Linked DNA regions of Homo sapiens. The protein of the gene in region 1 interacts with the protein of each later gene in a pairwise test. Each region holds a gene or a part of one and is shown on either strand. Other genes may lie near its edges. The genes, in order: CAMK2B, ZMYM5, SPRYD7 and TNPO2.

Region 1 (7,540 bases):
GGCTTTCTGCTTTAGCACAGCCTTTGTGCCTGCAGTTGGAAGCTACACAGGGTGGGATGGAAGGGGCCTGAGTGCAGAGTCTTCTGACACATGCTAGGAGGCCATTTCCACGATGACAAATCCCTGGTGTCCACTACAGGGAAGGAGGATCTGGGAGCCACTTATGGGCCATCTGGGACCTGCTCCTATCAGCCTAACTACTCCTAGCTGCTAGATATACCTGCGTTGGGGGCCTGCCTGGGCTGGGACAGTGCCTGGACTTCTGGGGCCTAGGGCCTGAGGCAACTCCAGGAGGATGGAGGTGACACCAATGAGGACAGCTAAGGTGGGGTCAGTCAGGAAGGGTCCACCTCGCCTGGTAGCCAGAGAGTGCCAGGGGTGCTCCAGGGAGCCCCAGCCAGCAGAGGGGGGGGTGGCCCAGAGCCTCAGCCTGGCAGCAGACTTAGCAGGGGTTGCTCTCACTTCCCTCCCTTTGCCCAAGGGCACAGTATCTCCGGGACAGGTGCTGGTGTCCAACTTATGCTTGGATGCTTGGTGAGAAGGGAGGAAGTCTAGGGGGTTCTCACCCTATGTTCTCGGGCCAAGCCTCTGAGCCAAGCCTGTGGATGCTGCTCCCGGCCCAGGGCCATAATGGTTAGTTGGCTTTATCACTTTGCTTGTTAGTCATCAAGGTGGTTCCAAATCCCTTGGAGGACTCAGGTGACATCTGCCAATAAGCCACTGACAAAATGCCCTTGCTGGGTCTGACTGCTTCACCCTCTTCCCCACCGTCTTCATTCCCTAAACACACCAGCTAGTGCCTGCCACAGGGCCTTTGCATGGCAGCCTCTTCTGCCAACACCCTGCCCTTTGGCTCTCAAGGGTAGCCTCTCTGTTTCATTCAGACTTCAGCTTAGACATCACCTCCTCAGAAAGCTCTTCCATGGACTTCCACTCTGAAGTTGCCACCCTGTCACTCTCTAGCACACCACTTTGTTTTAAATCTACATACAACATGAGTACTAGATGCATTCTTGTTTGCTTGTTATCAAGCTCTGCAAAGGCAGAATCCTTTTCTATCTCATTCCCTGATGTGACTGAGTGCCTGGACAGAGCTGGGCACACAGTAACTGCACAAAGAAGGCTGGTGGACACCCCTAAGCAGGACACAGTGGTTAAAGGAACCAGCCACAAAGTCAGGCAGATCCAGATGCCAATACTAAACTAGCTGTCTGACCTGAGGCCAGTTAGAGTCTGTGTCTCAATTTCCTCATTTGTAAAAGGGAGGCAATGATAATGCTATGAAGTTTATTCAAAATGGTGGATGTTGGACTTTTAGAATGGTTTAGGGCAGGTGATGAGTGAATTGTAAATTGTAGCTATGGCCTTCATCATCACCATCACCATCACCACCATCATCATTGTCACCAACACCATCATTATCACCACCACCATCACCATCCCCACCACCACCACCATCAGCAGCACCACCATCACCACCACCATGACCATCACCATCATTGTCACCAACACCATCATTATCATTATTACCACCACCACCAGCACCACCATTACCATCATTATCATTATCACCACCACCACCACCATCATTACCATCATTATCGTAACCATCACCACCATAGCCACTCCATGTGCTTGCCACTGTGTCCTGTATGGGCTGCCATGTCAAGGGCCAGATGATGGGAGATGGATGGACTAGGGTCTTCCTGCTCTGGGAACCACAGCCTGCTCTCCCTGGTGGATGGCTGGGCCTGAGAGAGGAGGTGCAGTGACACCCTTCCACATGACAGCAGTCCCTGGAGGTGAGGGGGACAGGGGAGGCGTGGCTTTCTTTGGGATAATGAACCCCATGTGCAGCACTTTTGGCTCTGCAGATGTGATGCTTGTTGCCATGGTGACCGTCCTAACAATAACCTCCCAGAACTGATATTCCCCACACCCTCCCCAGCTGCCACCTGGGAGGGAGAGCCCTCCTCGCTTACGAAAGCAAGCTTGAAAGGACAAGGTGGGAGGCAGAGATGACACGGGGGTTGGGGTGGAAGTGGGCCCTTCCTGAAGGCAGGGGTGGGAAGAGGGGGAAGTCTGGGCCTCTCTGACCAGAGCCAAAGCCAGATGAGAGGGCTTCTGGAATCTGGGACCAGAGAGTCATGGCTGGAAGTCTTTCTCCCTTCTACCCATTTTCCTATGATAGGGAGAAGCCGTCTGGGTCTGAGGGTGGGGACTGGGCTGTTTTTTGAGTGTTAGTGTGGGGTCAAGCTGTCTGGGTAGGGACAGTCTGGCTGCCTCTGATAGCCCAGCCCTTCCCCACTGTCTGGTGCCCAATCATGCCAACCTTCCTGCGCTCGCCAGGGTAGCTCTGCTTCATACCTCTAATATTTCAGCTCGGAGGAGGGACTGCCTGGGGGTCCCAGGTGCTAACAGGTACAAAAGGCGGGAAGAAGTATAGGATACAATGAATCTCAAATTGCATCTCTTAGTGACCCCACATTCTTGTGTAACCCTGGTCCTGGGCAGCTTCTCAACTTTTGAAAGGTGACCTCGGCCGGGTGCAGTGGCTCATGCCTGTAATCCTAGCACTTTGGGAGGCCGAGGTGGGTGGATCACCTGAGGTCAGGAGTTTGAGACCAGCCTGGCCCACATAGCTGGGGCTGTGAGCCACTGTGAGCTTGTTACAGGCGTGAGCCACCGTGCTTGGCTTGTTATTTGTATTCTGTTGTGTGGCCCTACCTCGTCTTTCCAGAGCTCAGAAAGGGAAAATATGGATGCATCCAGCAGGTGCTGGAAGAAACTCCTGTGGGGTTAAACACAACGCCAAGAACAAACCTCAGACTTGGCCTCCAGTCCTTTCTCGAGCCCATGCCAGTCTGTCTGTTAGGATGGCCCAGGATTCTCTGAGTCCAAGTCTGACATAGACGGGGTCTCCCTTCCTGCTATGGTCCTGCTGAAGTCAAGGCCAGGATCCCTCTGCTTCCTCAGCTGGGGACTTCCCCAGGTGGCCCAGCATTTGCCTTTGGCCTGAGAATTTCTCGTCCTCTAGTGTCTTCTGGGTGCAGGTGGGTCGATGGCAGGGACTTGTTGCCGTGTGGTCTACTAATTGCCCAGCAGTCCCATGCCAAATGCATCCTGGCCCAGAAGGGCCCTGGCTGCCAGCACTCAGAATGCCTTTATCCCCTCCCTTATCCACATGACATTTATTGTGGCTTCTGGGGCTTGCCCTGGGCTGGCCACGAGGTGAGAGGGATGAGCAGGATAGGCCCAGAATTGGTCCTTGGGGAGCAGTAAGGAAGTCATATCAGGGCAGCAGCGTGACCCAAATCCAGAGCTGGCTGCTGGAAACCCCCTCCTCAGAGCCTGCCCAGGATGGACCCCGTCAGAGAAGAGTGTGGGGATGCTGGAGCCCAGTGGTCTAAAGTCCCGGTTCTGGACAGCAGCCCTGGTGCCAGGCCTCAGGGAAGGCTGTTTTGTGGGAAACCGGGTCGCCCTGCCTCCTGCCTGCCTCCCTGCACTCTCCTCCTCCTTGGCTGCTTTCAGGAGGGGGTTGGGGTGTGTGGGCCCTCCTCCTCCAGGCAAAAGCAGGGGGCAGGCAGGTGGACCGTGCTGGAAAAGGAGAGAATGTGCACCTTTACCTGATCAGGGTGGCTGTGAGCTCTCAGGCCCCCCAAATTGCTGGTGGAGCAGCCCCTGTTCCCCTGGCTCAGGGTCCGTTGGTCTGGACTCCGAATGTTGCCTCCTGGGACCTCCATTCCAGACAACCCAGCAACCAGTCTTTGGAGAAGTGAGGGGGAAGGGAGGGGCTGGGGCCAAGGGGAGGGGGCAGGCCCCACCCTTTCACTTTCTCATGCTAGTGACCCAGTGTGTACACTGCCTTCTGGGCGGTTCCTCCTGGCCAGGCAGCCTTTGGGGCATGTGTGGCTGATGGAGACTGGGCAGAAGGGATCTGGCAGCATCTCTTCCTGAGGGTGTGAGGAATGAGTCCTGTGGAGGGCAGCACATGAGCCCTCTACCTCCATGTGGGCCCCAGTCCCCTCCTGCTGTCAGGCTAGGTGGGCCTTCGAGAGAGAGAGAGGAGGCTGCGTTCATTATGTGCACTCTTCTGTGTTATGTGAGAGCGAGGGGTCGGCAGCAGCAAGTGGCCTGCGTGCGCGAGGTGCGGGCGTGGTGCGGGTAGAGGATGAAGGCGTCAGTACAGGGCGCGGGTGTGTGTGTGGGGTGCGGGGGCGGGCGGGGGCGGGCGCGCGTGTGAGTGCAGGTGCAGGTGCAGGTGCGTTGCGGGTGCGGGGCAAGGGTGTGTGTGCAGGGCGCGTGTGCAGATGCAGGGCGCCGGTGCCCTGCGGGTGCGGGTGCAGGAGCAGCGTGTGCAGGGCGCGGGGAAGGCGCGTGCAGGGGGCGGCGGGCGGGGCGGGCGCGGCGGCGGCGGCGGTGACAGCGGCGCCCGCGCCTCCCCGCGCGTAGGTGTGCGGCGCGCTCCTGGCGAGGACGGAGCGAGCAGATCTCGCGTGCGCTCGCCGCCCGGCGCAGCCCAGCCCGGCCCCCGCCTGGCGCCGCGAGCCGAGGTGTCTCCCGCGCCCGCGCCCGTGTCGCCGCCGTGCCCGCGAGCGGGAGCCGGAGTCGCCGCCGCCCGAGCGCAGCCGAGCGCACGCCGAGCCCGTCCGCCGCCGCCATGGCCACCACGGTGACCTGCACCCGCTTCACCGACGAGTACCAGCTCTACGAGGATATTGGCAAGTAAGAGCAGCGGCGCGCGCGGGCTGGGCCGGGGACCCCAGAGGGCCGGGACCTCCGGGACCCTCCGCGCCGCCGGCTCCAGGCGCACTGCGGGCCCGCGCGCCGCCGGCTTCTCTGGGCTCCGGGCCCAAGCGCACGGCCCCGCGCGGCCCCGACCCGCGAGCCCCCGGCCCCGGGCCTGGCTGCCTGACCTCAGCGCGCGCGGCCCTGCCCAGCTCTGCCCAGCGCGGCTGCCGGGCCGGGGCTCCGGGCTCGCGACTTGGCGCGGCGGGGGCGGCAGCAGGTGTCCCCGGAGCGCCCGGCAGACGTGACGCATTTGGCGGCGGGGAGGTCAGAGAGGAGGGGCGCGCGGGGGTGGCCCCCGGGCCTGGAGCGCCGGGAGGGGTCGGCTGCGGCCCCAGAGGGTCGTCCCCGACGCGGGTGCGCTGTCCCCACCCCCACCCGAGCGGCAGGCGGCGGGGGTGGCGGGACCTGCTTGCGCCTGCTCCTGCGCGTGGCCCCATCCGCGCTGGGGGTGCCGGCGTGGGAGAGCCTCTGCTGTAGGTCCCCTGGGGAATCTGGGTTCTGGAGGATTTTCCCCCAGATTCTTCTGGAAACAGGAATTTGGAGGTGTGGGGAGGACGAGGTCAGGGAGCCTGGATCAGGTCATGGGGATAGCGGGGAGAGACTAAGAGCCTGACTGGATTGCAAATTTCAGGGTCATCGAGGTGGATGGGGGCTGGATTTTGGACTGTTGGCGGGGGCGCCCTAAAGGGGAAGGGGCTTTGAAGGTTTGTTTGAAGTGGGACCTCACGGGGAACAGGTGCTGTGGCTCCCGTTCTCTCCTTGGCAGTATGAGCAGTGTAGGGCGAAGGTCTGGTTCGTGGTCCCCGGACCCGGCTTTGCCCCTGGGGTGAGATGGGGAGCGCCTCAGGGGCCTCCTGTCTGGCCTGGGGTCTCCCGTTCTGAGAATCAAGGTGGCTGCACCTGGCATCCCTAGGGCTAGCTTCAGAACTCCTGAATCTCCAGCCTGACTGGGCCAGAGCCCCATCCTCCTGCGTCCTCCCCCATCCTCCTCCGTCCCTTCAGTGCAGGCGGTGGGGGCGCTGGCGGTGCTGGCGAGATTTCCTCTTACACATCCAGCAACAGATCCTTTTTTTCCTTTACTAAATAAGTGTCTGGTGAAACCTTGTGGTGGGTGAGGGACGCTGATCATTGATAATTGTGGAGTGCGGAGCTGGAGGAGTGTGGGGGTGTGTTCATTCCCCACTTCTCCCTGCACGTGTGGAGAGAATTCTGGTAGGGGTTAGGGATGTGGAGCCCAGCCCTGCAAGAAGCCCATGCTGGATGGGTGGGGTGGGGGGCCAGGCTGGCTGGGGGACCCTTCCTTGGGTGGATCTGGAGAGCACCACAGGGCTGAGACCTCGAGGGAGAGGGCGAGCCCAGCCCCCTTCATGCGGATCCCTGAGTGGGTGGCTGGCTCCCCGGTCTTCACCCCTCAGATGCACCGATCTACCCCCGTCTGTCCTCTTGGCCTCCAGAGGTGTCCTGGCCACTGGAGGGGCAGGTGGGTGGCAGTTAATGTGCCTGGTTCTCTGAGGAAGAGAGCAACAGTGGGAAGTCAGTCTTTCCTCAGGAGCCTTCTTGTTGTCTTTTCTGCTTGCGCTCAGAAGCACAGAGGCCCTCACAGCAGGTGTCCCTGGTCTTCTCCAAAGAAGCCACTTTCAAGACCTCCCCATGTGCACCCAGTGTCCTCAGACTGCAGCTCACTCTGGCTGTTCCTTCTTCCCTTTGCTGCGAGCCTCCCTGCGTCCAGCGGCAGTGTCCGGGTGGCCAGCTCCCCGCTGAGCCTCCGATTCCAGCGCAGCTGGATGTCCTGGCCAGTGCCACCCACACTGGGGAATGGAGGTCTTTGGGGCTGCCTGGGGAAGGTTGAGAGAGGTGGCTCCAGAGGTGGAGACCAGGTGGGGCTAAGACTGCTGGGCTTCTCTGTCAAGCCAGAGAATGAGCTGCTGCTGGAAAGGAGCGAGTGTGGCCTCCTGAGCGAAAGCACTGGGAGCCATGCATTGCGAGGTGAGGAGTGGGGCCTGGCATCGAGGGGAGCCCCATGACCTGGGACAAGAGGAGATGCCCAAGCCAGGAGCAGGCAGCTCAGCCTAGTGCACCTTTGTGGAGCCCTGCTAGGCGCCGGGTCCCTGGCGACGCCAAGGGCCTACCACTGCCCTGCTGTGGCGGCTCTTGGGTAGGGAAGGGACCGATTCCTCGGGGGTGCAGCCGTGCCATAGAGGTGGGCCAGGGAGCTGGGAGGGCAGAGCAGGGCACCTAAGGGGGATGTCTGAGGCCAGGGCTCAGTTGTGGGCACTCAGCCCATTTGCAGCGCTGGGGTCCCTTGGTTGTTATGCTGGCTGGTTGTTGACAGTGCCTGCCCAGGGCACAGTTGGTGTTGCTTCCTGGCCCCAGGTGGACATGTCCAAGTTTATTTAAAGCTGCAGCCACTGGCACCCAGTCAGGTGGCGCTGAGCTCCCTGCCCAAAGGAAGGGCTTGGCCTCAGGCCCACAGCTGCTCATGTGTGACGAGGCCACTGGCCTTTCCCCTCCCTTGCCCCATCCTTTTCTGCTGTCTCTGCTCCCGAATCTTCCCCAGAGGCCTGGGCAGCAGGGTCAGCCAGCCAAGAGGGGCCGCTTTCTGGGGCCCTGCCCTGCCCAGCTCTATAGGGAGTGTGTGCCCTTCCCTGCTCAGCCTGGCAGGGCTCACAGACACTAGCCTGGTGGCCCATGTGGGAGCAGGTACAGAGCAAGGCAAGGAAGCCCTCAGCCCGGCATGGCCCAGCCAACA
Region 2 (2,668 bases), on another chromosome or scaffold:
TTTGGGACAGGGTCTCACTCTTTCGCCCAGACTGGAGTGCAGTGGCGCGATCTCAGCTCAGCTCAACCTCTGCCTCCTGGGTTCAGGCGATTCTCCTGCCTCAGCCTCCAGAGGAGCTGGGATTACAGGCGCATGCCACTGTGGCCCGGCTAATTTTTGTATTTTTAGTAGAGACAGGGTTTCACCATATTGGCCAGACTTGTTCTCGAACTCCTGACCTCAAATGATCCATCCACCTTGGCCTCCCAAAGTGCTGGGATTACAGGCATGAACCACCGCACCCGACCGTCGTCGTCTTTTTGATTGGCATTTCTTTGATGCCTAATGATGAGCATGTGCTTATTGAGCATTTGAATATACATTAATTTTTAAAAGTTTAACCTAAAATAAAATTATAATCCTCTTTGTCCTCAGATGATGGAAACAAAATCAAAAAAATTAACAGCATCAGAAAATAGAAAAAGGAATGCTTTTAGAGAAGAAAATGAGAAACAATTATATGGATCGTCAAATACACTTTTGAAAAAAATAGAGGGAATCCCAGAAAAAAAGGAAAAGACTTCACAGCTACAGCTTTCAGTAGAATGTGGCACGGATACATTACTGATCCAAGAGAATGTGAATTTACCTCCTTCTTCCACGTCAACCATAGCTGATACATTTCAAGAGCAACTGGAAGAGAAAAATTTTGAAGACTCCATTGTACCAGTTGTGCTTTCCGCAGATCCAGGTACGTGGCCCCGAATTTTGAATATTAAACAACGGGACACTCTTGTTGAAAATGTTCCGCCTCAAGTAAGAAATTTTAACTTTCCAAAAGATAATACAGGGAGGAAGTTTTCAGAAACTTATTATACACGGATTCTTCCAAATGGTGAAAAAACCACTAGATCCTGGTTACTTTATTCAACCTCAAAAGATTCTGTGTTTTGTCTATATTGCAAACTCTTTGGGGAAGGAAAAAATCAACTGAAAAATGAAAATGGGTGCAAAGATTGGCAACATTTATCACATATTCTTAGTAAACATGAAGAAAGTGAAATGCACGTCAACAATAGTGTTAAGTACTCAAAATTAAAATCTGATCTGAAAAAAAATAAAGCTATTGATGCTGCAGAACACAGATTATATGAAAATGAGAAAAATGATGGTGTGCTGTTGTTGTACACGTAATATACCTGAGTTGTTTTTTGGCATGATGATCAGAATCTTACATTACTCAGAAAACATCTGTCCTGCAATAGTCAGTACTATTGTGTTGTAAGTCTCCTCTACAGAGTAACTTGCAGCAGTTCCTTAGCAATAAGTATGATAGCAAATAAATAGCAAAGAATGTTTCCATTCTAAATCTAAAACTAATTAGATTCAATCATCATTAGGCAATGACTTCATTAGGCAATGAAGATTAACAATAGGTAATTGTTAATCTTCAAAATCTATCAATTTACACCTATTTAAAAATTGGCATTTAATGACTGCCATTTGATGGGTTTGGTTAATATTCTGTTCTTGGCCGGGCGCAATGGCTCACGCCTGTAATCCAAGAACTTTGGGAGGCTCAGGCGGGTAGATCAATTGAGGTCAGAAGTTCAAGACCAGCCTGGCCAACGTGGCAAAACCTCGTCTTTACTAAAAATACAAAAATTAGCCAGGTGTGGTGGCACACACCTGTAGTCCCAGCTACTCAGGAGGCTGAGGCAGGAGAATCGCTTGAACCCAGGAGGCAGAGGTTGCAGTGAGCTGAGATTGCACCACTGCAGTCCAGCCTGAGCAACAGAGCGAGAGTCAGTCTCAAAAGAAAGAAAAATATTATGTTCTAATTACCTTGAAAGAGGAAAGAAAGGCTTGAATTGATCAATACCAGTTTGAATAAGATACTTATGTGAACAAGCATTCTCAACATTATTATTAAAGTAAAACTACTCAGTTTACAGAATGGGATCTGAAACTACAGCTTTTTGCTATTAAACCAAATACTTGTGATCTACTTTGTTTGAGCAAAACAGCATTATTTGTTATGTTAATGATGGTTAATTTCCATTTTATTGGTTTTATGTTTATTTTAATTTGTAAATGTTTTAGCATTTATTATTGTATGTGAACTATATTTACCTATTTTATGTTGATAAAAATATAAAAAATATTAAAATAAGTATATATTAAGTTAACCTTCAAGTGTTATGGGCTTTTTTCTCCCTGTGAAAAGAGATGGCATGCTTGAAATTTGAGATACACCAATGAAAATTAAGGATTTAAGTTATTTTAGATGGTCAGCAGCCCCATCACTGTGTATTTAGTAAATCTCCCTTCTGTTTCTGATTTCTGATGTCAATTTTGTAATATATTAAATTTTTATATACTATTCCTGTGAAACAAAATGGCATATGAGCAGTGACTAGGACAGAAGGTGCGTTCTTGTGGGATGACACTAGGAATACTTGCAGACTCTCAATGATACCAGTGTATATATTTTTGGAATACCCGTGAAAGTAATCCTCATTAACTTCTAACCATTTTGAGTGTTTGTTTGTTTGTTTGTTTTAAATAAAGATGGGGTCTACTATGTTGTCCAAGCTGATCTTCAACTCCTGGTCTCAAGCGATTCTCCCACCTCAGCCTCTCAAAGTGCTGGAATTACAGACTTGAGCTACTATGCCCAGCCACCATT
Region 3 (8,057 bases), on another chromosome or scaffold:
GTACAGTTCTAGGTTGAAAGTTTTTGGTAAATCACATTTTCTATTCTCTGAGACCTTTTTTATGTAGCACTTGCTATTGCTTTTTCTTCATTTTAAATATTAAAAAAATTGTTCTATTTTTATTTCTTTTGTACCTTTTTCAAATTCCTTTATTTTACCCCAGCTTCTTTTTCTTCCTAATGCCAAGTCTCTGCATTTTCCAAGTCTCCAACCTGGTTTACCTGTCTTAGCAATTAAAAGTACTATGTTGACCAGGCTGGTCTCAAACTCCTGACTTCAGGTGATTCGCCCTCCTCAGCCTCCCAAAGTGCGTTTCTACTAAAAATACAAAAATTAGCTGGTTGTGGTGGCGGGCGTCGGTAATCCCAGCTACTCAGGAGGCTGAGGCAGAAGAATCGATTGATCCCAGGAGACAGAGGCTGCAGTGAACTGAGATCGCACCATTGCACTCCAGCCTGGGCGACAAGAGTAAGACTCTGTCTCAAAAAAAAAAAAAAAGTACTAAACAGGCCAGGCAGGGTGGCTCATGCCTATAATCCCAGCGCTTCGGGAGGCCAAGGTGAGTGGATCCCTTGAGCCTAGGAGTTCAAGACCAGCCTGGGCAACATGGTGAAACCCCATCTCTATAAAAAACACAAAAAATTAGCCAGGCGTGGTGGTGCCACTGCACTCCAGTCTGGGCAACAGAGTGAGACCCTGTCTCAAAAAAAGAAAAAGAAGAAAAAAAGTACTAAATATCGTTTTTTTTTTCCGGTAGAGACAGCCTGTTAAGGACAAACCTGCAAAATATTAATATTCAAAGGCACCGCTAAGAGAACCAACTAATGGCAGTCTGTTGCAGTTACAAGGTTGACGTTATTTTCCTTATTTATTTTTGGTTGTTCAATCTAGGTAATATAACTTATAATTCAGGAAATCCAGATTAAATGAGCACAATTCATGCCAAGTAAATTTAAATGTCAGTCTCTGAGGAAAGGGGATAGAAGGAGACAAATACAAATTAGGAATGTATATTCATTTTTTATTTTTTTATTTTTTTTTTGAGATAGAGTCTTGCTCTGTCACCCAGGCTGGAGTGCAATGGCACGATCTTGGTTCACTGCAACCTCCGCCTCTGGGTTCAAGCGATTCTCCTGCCTCAGCCTCCCAAGTAGCTGGGATTACAGGCACACACTGCCATGCCCGGCTAATTTTTTTGTTTGTTTTTAGTAGAGACAGGGTTTCACCATGTTGCCCAGGCTGGTTTCGAACTCCTGAGCTCAGGCAGTCCATATCCCTCGGCCTCCCAAAGTGCTGGGATTACAGGCGTGAACCACCGCACCAGACCTAGGAATGTATTTTTAAATGTAACACCCTAGGAGGCAGTTTGCAGAGTGGTTAAGAACACAGACCCTAGAGCCAGAATGTCTGTTTGAATTTAGCTTCATCCTTCATTGACTGTGCAACTTTTGAGTACATTTCTTATTTTTTCTTCAGCTTCCTCATCTGTAAAGTGGAGGATAGTTTTTCCCTCACATGGTTGTTACAAAGACTAAATTAGTTTATTTTTAAAAAACACTTAGAACAGTGCCTGGCAATAATAAGCACTACATAAATGTCAATCACTATTAGTTACTCAAAATTATAATAATGAATTGGTCAAGGCTCCAGAAATATGTCAGTTTTTAGAAAAATGAGTTTTTGTTAATGTTTCTGATTTTTAAAAAGATCACAAATGTGGTTTGGATTAGTCTAAGGAAAAATGTTTTGTTTAATAACTGATTAATGAGTTTTTAAAAACTCATTTCGTATGACCCAGTACAGAATGGGAAATTCACTAACAGAAGACGTCCAGCTGGCATAAAAAACATTAAAGAAAATCTTAAGCATAATGCTAATCTCAACTCTGAAACACAAGCTTTACATTATTGTTCTCAGTTCTCGAGTTCCTGGCATGTCTTGGAAGCAGACAGACTCTTTTTTTGAAGTAGTCATTCTTTCTTATTGCTTATGACTTAGATAAATGACCTTGAGAAACTATTTTTGGCTTTATTTGTGATTGTTATTTAAAGCGATAGCTGTGAAAGAGTGTCAAAACATCTTTAACGTTGTGCTTTTCAAAAAGAGAGGATAATTCCTTTGAAAGTAATAATGAATGGATATTAGAATCCCAGATATTAGAAGGAAAAGTGAGCTCATGGATGGTGTTAATCTGCCAAGACAGGGAAGTCTGTTTCAGGAGCTAACCAGTTTTGCTAACTTCATTCTGCTGAGCACACTCGAGTTGCTAGGATGGGGGCAAAGTGCACCGGGCAGCGCCCCAGCAAATTACTTTTCCAGCTAGGAAAGACTATGGCCCTTCTGCCTCTCTATAGTAATGTCCAATTCACGGCCATTTAGTGTCTGGCTTTTCATTGAAGATGTGACTGACTTGAATGGCCTAAATGTTTATTACATATATAATACATGTACTTCTTTTAATAATATTTCTGAACAAAATTTTTACTTTATAACAACTAATTCTATTATATTTTGTCTATACATGCATTATGGCAGCTTATATCCAATGTGGAGATAAATGAAACACACAAAAAAGGGCAAATCTGCATTTTGAACTGAGAGCATGTTTAAGAGGATTATAGCATTAATTATAAGAGAAAGAATTTGAGAGGCAGTGTTAAAGCAAACTAAATATGGCCTGAGAAGGACTCTGTACTTCTGTATTTGAGTCCTTGTGTACGAACTGTAACCTAGGTTAATAGGCAGACAAGCTTGAAAACCTAATTTAGGAGTATGCACCTGTAACAATAGCTGAGTCTTGGCCAATCCCAGCGGCCATACTTCAACCAGTCATACACTGCTGATTGTTCAAACTGTGTTCAAATAAGGCAAACGCCCCCCTGTAACCAATGCAGCTGTTTCTGTATCTCACTGCTGATTTCTGTACGTCACTTCCCTCTTTTTGTCTAAAAATTTGTTCTGACCACGAGGCATCCCTGGAGTCTCTCTGAATCTGCTGTGATTCTGGGGGCTGCCCAGTCATTCACTGCTCAGTTTAACTCCTTTAAATTTAGTTCAGCTGAAGTTTTTCTTCTAACAGGAATCAGACTGGTAAGCCTTGAATCCTACCTGTTTATCTCCTGCTCACCTGAAGTTGTAAAGTTTAGTACCTCTAGGCCTATTTCTTCACCTATAAAATGGGGACAATACTGACCTTGAAATCTTGAAATAATTCAACTAGATATATATATATGAACGGTAGAAAAATTTTGTCTCTCCAATATTCTGTTAAAATTCTCACCCCCTGCCCCGCCCCCAGCACTTCCCTGGGGTTAAAAAAAAAAAAAAAAAAAAAAATCAAAGCACTTAATTCCCAGCATAACGATGAAGGTTTGTCATAAAAGAAAATTTCTTGTGTGAAATGATTACCAAGAAAGTACTGCATACGCAATGGGGGAAAAGACCAACCCTCAATCAGTTTAATAATCACCTTGGTTATTAAATTCTATGGTAACTTAATTTCAACGTACAAAACTTTCCCTTAGTATTGTAATGAAAACACCATTTATAGAAAGAGAACCAGGAACCTGAAAAATTCCCCTCATTGCATAGATAGAAATCCTCCTTAAAAAACATTTATAACTCGGGTCACTAAAAGTTACGTATGGGAAATCATTATTTAAGTAGTGGGCATTTTATGTCCAGTTTCCCAGGACTTGATGATCCATCCCTAGGGAAGCCTTCAGGATGAAACTGATCTGGGAACAGAGGTTTGAGCTAGGTTAATTCTAGAGGTCGTCCCAGACATTTCCAGATGCCAAGCGGTATCTTTTTTTTTTTTTTTTTTTTTTTGGAGACAGAGTCTCTGTTGCCCAGGCTGGAGGGCAGTGGCGCGATCTAGGCTCACTGTAACCTCCGCCTCCCGGGTTTAAGCGATTCTCGTGCCACAACCTCCTGAGTGGCTGGGATTACAGGCGTGCACCACCGCACCCAGCTAATTTTTGTATTTTTAGTAGAGACGGGGTTTCACCATGTTGGCCATCCTGGTCTTGAACTCCTGACCTCAGGTGATCCGCCCACCTCAGCCTCCCAAAGTGCTGGGATTACAGGCGTGAGCCACTGCACCCGGCCTGAAGATGTAAAATCTACCACGGAAGGATGATCTAAGTGGGGAAGGAGATGACAGGTGACAGCCTCCCGTGTGGAAGCAGAAAGTAGCGGACGGTAGGAGCCGAAGGCTTCCCTCGGGACCCAGCAGACTTCCCGCAGCCTCCTGGGTTCCCGTCACATTCCTCGGAACCCTCAGTGCACCAGACAGGGGGAGCTTGGAAGAGGCAGGTCAAGAATCGCCCCCGACCCCGCCCCAGCGTTCTGCTCCCAGGGCGGCCTCCCACGCGCCCCGGACCACGCAGCCCGATGGGCCAGGTAGGGCGCGTCTCTGCACCGAAAATGCATTAGGGCCCGCGTGAGCCCCGGTGAACATCCACAGTGCAGTCACTAACAGGCATTACTCCTGGGGCCCACGTGAGTCTATTTAGCATGTGAGGGAAACCAGCCACGGCAGGGAGACTGGGGCTCTCCGTGGTGGCAAAGCCTGCTCAACCTGGGCCCGCGGAGGGAAAACTCGGAAGTCATTTCCATTAGCTCCCCTTCCCCCAAACTGATTCGCTTCTGTCAATCCATCCCTAGAAATAATGTCGAGGCCGGGACCAAGGGGTGCTGCGTTTTAAAAATTCTGCATAGGAAAACCCCTGGAAGTACTGAGGGACAGACAGCCCCACTCACCTGTCAGCCCTGGGGGCGTGCGCGAAACCGCCCAAGGAGAAAAAACCAGCTGGTGCGCAGGCGCACGCCGTCCCACATCCGCAGGCCCGCAACGCCACGCCCCCTGCCACGCCTCCGCGCGCCACTAGCCCCACCCGTCTCCCCGGCCCAGCCCGGCCGCTCGCCCTGTCCGGTCTCTCCCCGGCCCCTTGATTCTCCGCGTCTTCCTCGCAGGCCAGCCTAAGCTCAGCCTGCATTGCGCCCTCCCGGCCTAGGGTGTCGCTGTACCGGCCTCCGAGCTCCACATAGACAAGTCCGGACCTCGGGCGGGGGCAGGAGACGGAGCTGAGCGGCGGGGGGCAGTGTCGCCTCGGTCTAGGGACGGCGGCGGAGTCGGTGGTCCCTGCGCGATGGCCACCTCGGTGTTGTGCTGCCTGCGGTGCTGCAGAGACGGGGGGACTGGCCACATCCCTCTGAAGGAGATGCCGGCCGTGCAGCTGGACACGCAGCACATGGGTAAGGGCCCTCCCTTCCCCAGACCCAACGGCTCACGGGGGCCGGGCGCGGCGGGCAGGGGGACCTTCAGGGTCAGAGGGTCCCCACGCTGCCCCGCCGCGCCGGCGACGCTGCGCCGACACCATTTCGTCTCGCAGATCTCTCCAGAAGCCGGCGGACTCCACCTGGGCCCGGTTCTGTGTTCAAGGCTGCGCAGCCCTCTCTGTGTCTGTCATCGCGAATGGGCGTGTGGACCTCCCATTTTCACAGGAATCTCGGAGGCTTCCTCCGGAGATGTCACACGTCCTCGGGCGAGGGGGCGGAGAGTGCCCTTCTGGCGCGCCCCAGTGAAAACCTACACATTTTCAGAATGCTTCTAGGTCCGGTCTTGCTCCTCCTCCTGCCCTGACTGTCGGTCCTGTCTCTTGAGCCCCATCATTTATAGGTTGAATCCTATATTATTGGAAGTAATTTTCCTCTCACCTCCTAAAGTCGAAACAAGGCAGACTGCAGAAGTCTGAAGTCGCACCTCAGGTCAGAACTTGCCATTTCAACTAAAACCTCCCATTGCCCGACTCCTTAGTCATTGTGAGAGGTACTGTAATTTCATCTGACTGGCCTCTTCCCAACAGGTCTAACTGTTGAAAAATAAAATAGCACTTTGCTCCTTTGCATCTTGCTTTATCCTTTTAATTCCAAATCCATATAATTTATCTAACATTCTTCCTCTCCCATCATAGCCTCTTTCACCACCTTATTATTTCTTAGACTTTTCCCAGGTAGTTTCATGCTTCTGGAATGTGGTTCTAGAAGGAGAGATTTCCCAATATAATTATTTCAGTTAGAGTACTGTCTTTTTGTGGATTATTTTATTCTAACTGTACTTCTGCACTTTTGATTTTTTACACGTTTCTGATTGTTTAAAGGACAGTGCATTGAAATAAAAAGGCACTTCTTAATATTTATGATAAAACTCTCTCGCCCAGTTTCCTTATAATTCTGGAAACACTCTGCCCACTGTATTTTTGTATAACACATACTAAATGTGATAACTATATAATCACCTTGTATGTGTGTATTTACTTTTAATTCTCAGATCTCCCAAATGTAGTACAGAACCTTAATACATAAGTAATCTTTAAATTATTTTTTATCCATCATTATTTATAGACGATGGAGTTCAAATTCTATAGTTTTCCTCAGAAAATATTTCCATTTCAGTTACTCATTTACTGAAGTGATATTTATTAAGCAATTATCAGGTGGCAGGCATTGTTATAAGTGCTGAGAATATAGTGAAGGACAACCATACATAATTCCTGGAACTCATGATCAACTGCAGCACTTCTTCCTATCTTTACTGTTAGACTCTTGAATTACTGCAGTCTCCTCTTTGGAGCATTCCTTTTCTCTGTCATCTGTTTCCTCTAGGAAGAGCTGGTCAGATATACTCATTCCACTGTGTTTTATTTCTCCAAAGCTGTCCAGCAACTGTCAGCTACTAACTGGATGAAATAGAGTAATGTCATCTCCAAATTTTCTAACTGCATGGAAGTTTTTTCTTCTTCTTTTCTTTTTTTTTTTTTTTTTTTTTTGAGACGGAGTTTCACTATTGTTGCCCAGGCTGGAGTGCTGTGGCACAATCTCCACTCACTGCAACCTCCGCCTCCCGGGTTCAAGCAATTCTTCTGCCTCAGCCTCTTGAGTAGCTGGGATTACAGGCGCCCACCATCAAGCCCGGCTAATTTTTGTATTTTTAGTAGAGACAGAGTTTCACCATGTTGGTCAGGCTGGTCTCGAACTGACCTCGTGATCTGCCTGCCTCTCAGCCTCCCAAAGTGCTGGGATTATAGGGGTGAGCCACCACGCCCGGCCAGGAAGTTTTTTCTTAGCCTGTCTTTCTATAAACTTAAATTATTCAATCACAGAGGAGCCTGATTTGAGAACCTGAATAAAATGAAAGAAAAGGGTTGTTGAGTTAGAAGAACATGTTTCAAGCATGAATTGATCTTGACTTGAAAATAGAAACACATGGATTTGGTGGTGTGAAAGATTATTATATTAAATAACCTAAAAAATGTGATTGCTTTTTTTTTTTTAACAAAATTGTCTGTATACTTCAAGTGATTCTCCGAGGGTTGTCACTTATTTTAGTGATGTTGTATTACTTAAAACCACTTTGGAATTCCTCTTTTGGAATTTTCTATGGCATAATTTTTGTAAGTATTATCATTGATGCCATATCTTTGGCTTTTAATTGTGAATCGACATTTTAGAAACAAATGACTTCCAAGGCAGCTACTTTGAAAGGGACACCGCTCATTTGGAAATTTATGTTTCTTAAAACATCCTCTGTGGCTATGTTTATGTGGCATTCTGGCTGTACTCAAATTTGCCTTGACCGTCTAAGCAGCACCAATCATTAAAAGTACAGATTCTAAAACCGTCTGTGTACTTAAGAGAAATGGGATAAGCTTAAAATGATTCCCTAATGACTCATAAACACCCTGAATATTCTTTCTTTCTTTTTTTTTCTTTTTTTTTTTTTTGAGAGGGAATCTCGCTCTGTCGCCCAGGCTGGAGTGCAGTGGCCTGATCTCAGCTCACTGCAACCTCCGCCTCCTGGGTTCAATTAATTCTCCTGTCTCAGCCTCCTGAGTAGCTGGGACTATAGGCGCCCACCACCATGCCTGGCTAATTTTTGTATTTTTAGTAGAGATGGGGGTTTCACCATGTTGGCCAGGCTGGTCTTGAACTCCTGACCTCAAGTAATCTGCCTGCCTCAGCCTCCCAAAGAGCTGGGATTACAGGTGTTAGCC
Region 4 (7,291 bases), on another chromosome or scaffold:
ACTCAGAGAAACACGGCCTCAGCAAGTAGAGGGTGGAAGGCACAGGGCTGTGGTCCTGGGAGTGGGCTGAGGTGGGCCTACCCCGGTACACCACAGGCTCTCAGATTTTGCCAGATGCAGTCTGTGCAGGTTGGGGTGGAGCACTGACTCATGTAACAAATGATGAGCATCTGCTATGTGAAGTCAGCTACCTAAACAGACAAAAACCCTGCCCTGCCAAGAATGGTGGCTCACATCTGTAATCCCAGTGACTGGGGAGGCCGAGACACAGGTGGATCACTTGAGCCCAGGAGTTCGAGACCAGCCTGGACAACACAGCAAGACCTTTCTTGCTACAAAAAATAAAAGTTGGCTGGGCGTGGTGGCTCACGCCTGTAATCTCACCACTTTGGGAGGCTGAGGCAGAAGGATCACTTGAGGCCAGGAGTTCGAGACCAGCCTGGCCAATGTGGTGCAACCCTGTCTCTACTAAAAATACAAAAAATTAGCCGGGCGTGGTGGCGCGCACCTGTAATACCAGCTATTCGGGAGGCTGAGGCAGGAGAATGTCCTGAATCTGAGAAGGCAAAGGTTGCAGTGAGCCAAGATTGTGCCACTATACTTCAGCCCGGGCAACAAAGTGAGATTCCGTCTCAAAAAAAAAAAAAACAAACAGCCTAGCTGTCGTGGTGGCTCACGCCTATAATCTCAGCACTTTGGGAGGCCAAGGCGGGCAGATCACAAGGTCAGGAGTTCAAGACCAGCCTGACCAACATGGTGAAACCCTATCTACTAAAAATACAAAAATTAGCTGGGGGTGGTGGCCCACGCCTGTAATCCCAGCTACTTGGGAGGCTGAGGCAGGAGAATCGCTTGAACTGGGGAGGCAGAGGTTGCAGTGACTACACTCCAGCCTGGGCAACAGAGTGAGACTCCATCTCAAAAAATTAAAAAAAAAAAAAAGAATAGGATACCTTTCCTCTTTCGCTTCCTGCTAACACACAATAAGGTTTTTCTGCTTTACTTTGCATGTGGGCTGAAAGGTCTCTCCCTCCTACTTTGGGGATGCTAAGCTAGCCCAGGTGTGACTTTGGCCTTGGGGGTGGAGTATGGGGGGAGGGAACACAGGAAGCTAATGGAGCCATCCCTACCTCCTCCTCCCCCAAAGCCACCAGCAGAGACTGGATCTTTAAAAAGCAACAGAAGCCTGGGAAGTAGGTCGCCCTGCAGCATCTCAGCCTCTATTCTAGTGTCAAGAGGCAGGAGAGGCTGAAAGTCCAGGCACATCCCTTTACAGTACTTACCTGCTCTGACCTGAGAAAAGTCTGAAGAGGGAGGAGAATCATATCCAGGTTTTGGTGAGTCACACAGCCCTGGCTTCTGACTATTCTAGTGCCTGTTGACTGTGTGATCTTGGGTAAGTCACTTAGCTTTTCTGTACTTCAGGTTCTTCATCTATCAAATAGGGGTAAAATAAAGAAGCATCTCTAGAGTCAAGTTCTAAAGTAAGGGCAATATTCATAGAATCTAACCCTGCCATTGTTTAAAACAGCTAGTGCTTTCCAGGGTGAAGAAGTTGGCTTGCGTTTGGGGACTGTGTTAAGTTAGTTGAAGTGCTGACCTTTGAACTCGGGGGACAGTGTGATGAGAGGCTTGGGAAGGGAGGCTGCTGTAAATTGAGAACACGTTTGTCTCACATTTCAGATTCGCGGTTGGACACCAATTCTTTTTTTTTTTTTTTTGAGACAGAGTCTCGCTCTGTCGCCTAGGCTGGAGTGCAGTGGCGCGATCTTGGCTCACTGCAAGCTGCGCCTCCTGGGTTCACGCCATTCTCCTGCCTCAGCCTTCCGAGTAGCTGGGACTACAGGCGGTCGCCACCACGCCTGGCTATTTTTTTTTGTATTTTTAGTAGAGACAGGGTTTCACCGTGTTAGCCAGGATGGTCTTGATCTCCTGACCTTGTGATCTGCCCGCCTCGGCCTCCCAAAATGCTGGGATTACAGGCATGAACGTGAGCCACCGCGCCCGGCTGGTTGGACACCAATTCTGTGAGTTTCTTTTGGCACAGAGAGCTTCTAATTGAACTAGGGTAAGTTTGCCAGGCATAGGGCTGTTGTGAGATTTGCATGAGATAACATTTGGCCTTTTTTTTTTTTTTTTTTTTTTTTGAGACAGAGTCTCGCTCTGTCGCCCAGGCTGGAGTGAAGTGGTGTGATCTTGGCTCACTGCAACCTCCGCCTCCCGTGTTCAAGCGATTCTCCTGCCTCAGCCTCCTGAGTAGCTGGGATTATAAGCGCAGGCCACCACTCCTGGCTAATTTTTTTGTATTTTTAGTAGAGACAGGGTTTCACTGTGTTAGCCAGAAGATGGTCTCAATCTCCTGACCTCGTGATCTGCCCTCGGCCTCCCAAAGTGCTGAGATTACAGGCATGAGCCACCACATCCGGTATTAATGAGATAACATTTGGAAACCACTTGACATGCAGTAGGTGCTTAAGAAATAGGAAAAAAGGCCAGGCATGGTGGCTCATGCCTGTAATACCAGCACTTGGGGAGGCCAAGGCAGGTGGATCACCTGAGGTCGGGAATTCGAGACCAGCCTGACCAACATGGAGAAACCCGGTCTCTACTAAAAATACAAAATTAGCAGGGCGTGGTAGCACATGCCTGTAATCCCAGCTACTCGCGAGGCTGAGGCAGGAGAATCACTTGAACCCGGGAGGCAGAGGTTGTGGTGAGCCGAAATTGCACCATTGCACTCCAGCCTGGGCAACAAGAGCAAAACTCCACCTCAAAATAAAAAAAAAAAAAAAAAAGGAAAAAAGGCCAGGCACGGTGGCTCACACCTGTAATCCCAGCACTTTTTGGGAGGCCAAGGCGGGCAGATCACAAGGTCAGGAGTTCAAGATCAGCCTCGCCAATATGGTGAAACCCTGTTTCTACTAAAAATACAAAAATTAGCTGGGTGTGGTGGCGGGTGCCTGTAGTCCCAGGTACTCGGGAGGCTGAGGCAGAATAGCTTGAATCCCGGAGGCGGAGGTTGCAATGAGCTGAGATCCCACCATTGCACTCCAGCCTGGGCGACAGGGCAAGACAGTGTCTCAAAAAAAAAAAAAAAAAAAAAAAAAAAAAAAAAAAAAGAAAGAAAGAAAGAAATAGGAAAACTGGGCCGGGCACAGTAATCCCAGCACTTTGGGAGGTCGAGGCAGGTGGATCACCTGAGGTCAGGAGTTCAAGACCAGCCTGGCCAACATGGCAAAACCCCATCTCTATTAAAAATGCAAAAAATTAGCCTGGCGTGGTGGCAGGCGCCTGTAATTCCAGCTACTCGGAAGGCTGAGGCAGGAGAATCGCTTGAATCCGGGGGCGGAGGTTGCAGTGAGCCGAGATTGAGCCATTGCACTTCAGCCGGGACAATGAGAGCAAGACACCATCTCAAAAAACAAAAAAACAAAAAAAGCCAGGCGCGGTGGCTCACGCCTGTAATCCCAACACTTTGGGAGGCCAAGGCAGGCAGATCATGAGGTCAAGAAATCAAGACCATCCTGGTCAACATTGTGAAACCCCATCTCTATTAAAAAAAATTAGCCGGGCGTGGTGGCGCATGCCTGTAATCCCAGCTACTCGGGAGGCTGAGGCAGGAGAATCGCTTGAACCCGGGAGGCGGAGGTTACAATGAGCTGAGATCGCGCCACTGCACTTCAGCCTTGTAACAGAGCGAGACTCCGTCTCAAAAACAAAACAAAACAAAACAAAGAAATAGAAAAACAAAAACAACAAAACAACAAAAACCCAAAACCTTGTCCTGATTCAACACTCAAATTCACCAGCTGGAGAGGAAGAAAAAATTCCGTGACCACACAAGGGCCAACAATGTGGACCACACATGCAGCAGGGGCTACTTTGTTCTGCCCCAAGGCTTGCGGAGGGCCGCTGAAAATTTGCCATATTATATGAAGGGGGTGAACCTTAACAAATTGTCTCCTGCATCCCAAACTCGCTCCCCATCTGATCTTTATCTGGGGCAGCCCCCAAATTTGACCAGAAAGCTCTTATCGTTCACACTCGCTCCAGGAACCCCCAAATCCAGCCCCAGCTCCCCAGTCTCACTCTTCTGCTCCCCATGCACCTCGGTTGGTCTAGAGACCCTCCTGCCAATTTGAGTCTCAGCCAAAACCCCAAAGCGCGGCGACCCTGGCGCATGGCAGGACGGGATTTGTAGTTCCAGGGCTTATCGGAGGGTGGGGGAGAGGGAGGCCTTTACGCATGCCTTGGTGGCGGCTTTCTGCACGTGTTTCTCAGCCCAGGTTTCAGTCCAGCGGAACTGGCTACCTCGGAATCCCAACTGCTCCTTTAGGGTGTCTTCCGCGATTCTCCGAGTGGAGTTAGGCGCCTGCCGACACTTCCCTAACCTTGGAGGCCCGGGACTTGATTTTCATGAATGAACGGAGCCGGGACTGACTTTGCCTACGGCAAGTGGGTTGAGATAGCTGTTCCCCTCCTTCAGGCAGGGGCAAAAATTGACCTCTGCCTCTCTCGAGGGTCAAAAAGTTCCTCAGGGCAGGGTGGGTTGTTCTTTGGGATTAGAGCTGGTGAATTCATTAAATATCGGCTTAGGGAGGGGCTGAATACAGTAAAAGAACAGCCTTGAGCCTTGGAGGGTAAAGCCACGTTTTTAAGGAACAATTCAGAGCTGGCCAGGTCATGCTTAACTTGGATGATCTCTAATCGCGCGAACTGCTCTTATACCCATTTGACAAGTGGGGAAACTGAGGCTTCAAGTGGCAGGAGGTCTCCCACTTTGTTATCGGCAGGGCAGGGAGGGGAAACCAAGACGCTACAGGGTCTCCAGCTTTTTACCATCTGCTCCTCTCTCAAGAGAAGGAAAAACGGTGCCCTACTGTCTTCAGACGTCGCAAGGATCAAGAAGATTTCTTTCTTCATGACCCTGCCCTTGCCAGAATTTCCTGCGCTGTTCCACCTCATTCAACTTCAGGTAGGGAAAGGGATTAGGCGTGGTTCAAAGTTTATTTTATTAGTTCATTTCGTTTTATTCAAAAATTTATATCCTTGTGGCTTTTTCATCTCCTTGTAAAAACTATCAAACAGTACTGGAAAATAATGCAAAAAGTGGCAGAGGCTTCTGTAGGAACCCGGCTTGTCTCAGGCACTTACTTTGTCCTGCTTTCTTTCCTTTGTCTCTGGGGTATAAAGAGCACGCTCAGCTCTTTCCTTGCGCACACACAGCGTACTCCTCCCAAGTACCTCTGGATGGGGGAAGGGAGGCACATTTCAATTTTTAGTGGAGGAAGGTGACAAGGAGGGTGCTGGCTCTGGCCGAGGGGTTCCTGGATCCATCACACACAAAGTCCCCACGCGCTACCAAACTCCTGGCTCCAGCTAAAGAGCTTGCGGTCAGGTCAGTGAAAGATGCTGGGAAAACGAGACACTGGGAGGACCGGCTGGCTAGAGAGGCCAAAGAAACGGCAACTCTTTGGTCACGTGACCGGACCTTGTCTCAGCCCGGGTTTCCCAAGTGCCAGGGCACGTGTGAAGGTTGAACCTTCCGATTGGCTCGGCGGGACCAGTTTGAACGGAGTACGGGAGCCGCGGCGGCTCACCTACGGCCGCGTTTTTCTTTTTTTTTTTTCTTTCTTTCTTTTTTTTTTTTTTTTTTTTTTTTAATTCTCTCTCTTTGGCTCCCTCCTTCCGCGCGAGTCTCTGGAGAAGCCGCAGCGCGAGTTGCCGCCGCTGCTGCCCGGGGCCGGGTAAGTGGGCCTCACTCAGAGCCCGACCCTCTTGGCCCCGGCTTGCGTCGACCCCCGCCGGGCACCGAGCCTGCGCCGCGCGCGGCCCGGGCGTCGGGGCCGCGCCCGACCGGGAAAGGCCGGGAAGCCGGTTGGGCCCGATCCTCCTGGCAGCTAGAACGGGCCGGGCGGGGGAGGGGGGAACCGAGCAGAGCTTAGGGGGTGGGGCCTCGGAGCCAGGCCATGTCGGGGCTCCTCAAGAAGAGGGCCAGTGGGACTGCTGGGGTCGGGCTGGAGGGGATCTGATTGGGGGAAGCGTCTGGGGACTGCTTGGGGCCTGATTGGGGGACGTCGCGAGGATCGGGTGTGTGTAGGGGCCTGTTTCGGTGGGGCTTGGTTGGGTCTGATTGGGGGAGGCCGCACTGAAAAGTTGAGCGGGGTGGGGGGAGGGGAGCTCGTTGGGTCCTGACAGGGAGGGGCGTCAGACTTCGGCCTAGAGGGTTTTCTTGGATCTGACTTCGAGGCGTTGCTGGGATCCGTTGAGGGGAATGCCCCGGGGGGTGTTTACCCAGGCCGAACTGGGGGAGGCTGCAAGGATCGGACCAGGGGGTTACTGACACGAGGTGGTGGGGGGCTCGGCCGAACTTGACTGGGAGAGGCAACAGAGATCCGTCAGCAGGGGTTACTGCTGACAGGGTCGGAGGGAATTTCAGGGAGAGGCTTGGCCAGACCTGATTGGGGAAGGCGACTGGGATCGGTCCAGGGGGCTCCTATAGTGGGTTGGCCGGGCTTGGCTGGCTCTCATTCGAAGAGGCAGCAGAGACCTACCTGGGGACTGCTTTGGGCCTGATTAAGGGGAATCCTTAGAATTTGGCTAGGCCACAGAGGGGGATATCTGGCATCCACTGAGCTTGAAGGGCAGGAACAGGGGACAGGAGAGATCAGGACGATCGTCTTGGGAGGGCGCATCTGGGGAAGCTCAGAAATTGGACTAGGGCAGGAGGCCTCTGGGATCTGGCAGAAGTTAAGGGCAGAGTGTCGGGGGAAGGGGACTCTTCAGGGACTGTGCCTGCATAGAAGAGACCACGGGGGCCGGGGCGCTATCACGGTCTGGGGCGGGGCCCCTGGATGTGGAGGCGGCTGGGCCCTCGCCCAGCCGCTGCGAGGGAGGTGGAAGCCTTCGGGCTCGGAGCCGGGGTCAGCGGCATGGGCCACCCTGGGACGAGGGCTCTTCGCTGGGTCCCATGAGGATCCGCCGGGCCCCGCCGCCGCCGCCTGTGGCCCGTTTCCACATCCCCCCTCCCGCGCTCCCGAGCCCGCGACTGCGCGGCCGAGGATGGCGCAGCTGGCGGGGACCCCGCACTTGGGCGGGCGTGGATCGGAGGCCTCCGCCTGTCCGCCGAGGGCGTTCCCGTCGTCATGCGGCCACCGCGGCCTCAGGGGCTCCACCTGGGTCTCACACGGAGCCCCAGAGACCCAGCGCTGACCCCGGCCCCTACCTCCGCAGCTTGCCTTGCGCCATGGACTGGCAGCCAGACGAGCAGGGCCTGCAGCAGGTCCTGCAG

What was found.
Region 2: the proteins of CAMK2B (region 1) and ZMYM5 interact in binary tests that used the Homo sapiens proteins (3 or more experiments, as listed by UniProt).
Region 3: the proteins of CAMK2B (region 1) and SPRYD7 interact in binary tests that used the Homo sapiens proteins (3 or more experiments, as listed by UniProt).
Region 4: the proteins of CAMK2B (region 1) and TNPO2 interact in binary tests that used the Homo sapiens proteins (3 or more experiments, as listed by UniProt).

Annotation. Positions count from the first base shown.
Region 1 is NC_000007.14:44,322,542-44,330,081, reverse strand, and holds the start of CAMK2B (calcium/calmodulin-dependent protein kinase type II subunit beta), read left to right. Parts: upstream 1-4,487; 5' UTR 4,488-4,660; coding exon 4,661-4,725; intron 4,726-7,526; exon of another isoform or gene 7,527-7,540. UniProt on the Homo sapiens protein: Calcium/calmodulin-dependent protein kinase that functions autonomously after Ca(2+)/calmodulin-binding and autophosphorylation, and is involved in dendritic spine and synapse formation, neuronal plasticity and regulation of sarcoplasmic reticulum Ca(2+) transport in skeletal muscle.
Region 2 is NC_000013.11:19,822,982-19,825,649, reverse strand, and holds the end of ZMYM5 (zinc finger MYM-type protein 5), read left to right. Parts: intron 1-414; coding exon 415-1,173; 3' UTR 1,174-2,168; downstream 2,169-2,668. UniProt on the Homo sapiens protein: Functions as a transcriptional regulator.
Region 3 is NC_000013.11:49,933,332-49,941,388, reverse strand, and holds the start of SPRYD7 (SPRY domain-containing protein 7), read left to right. Parts: upstream 1-5,048; 5' UTR 5,049-5,153; coding exon 5,154-5,259; intron 5,260-8,057.
Region 4 is NC_000019.10:12,720,933-12,728,223, reverse strand, and holds the start of TNPO2 (transportin-2), read left to right. Parts: upstream 1-4,291; 5' UTR 4,292-4,455; intron 4,456-4,858; 5' UTR 4,859-4,975; intron 4,976-5,663; exon of another isoform or gene 5,664-5,747; intron 5,748-5,964; exon of another isoform or gene 5,965-6,090; intron 6,091-7,233; 5' UTR 7,234-7,246; coding exon 7,247-7,291. UniProt on the Homo sapiens protein: Probably functions in nuclear protein import as nuclear transport receptor. Serves as receptor for nuclear localization signals (NLS) in cargo substrates.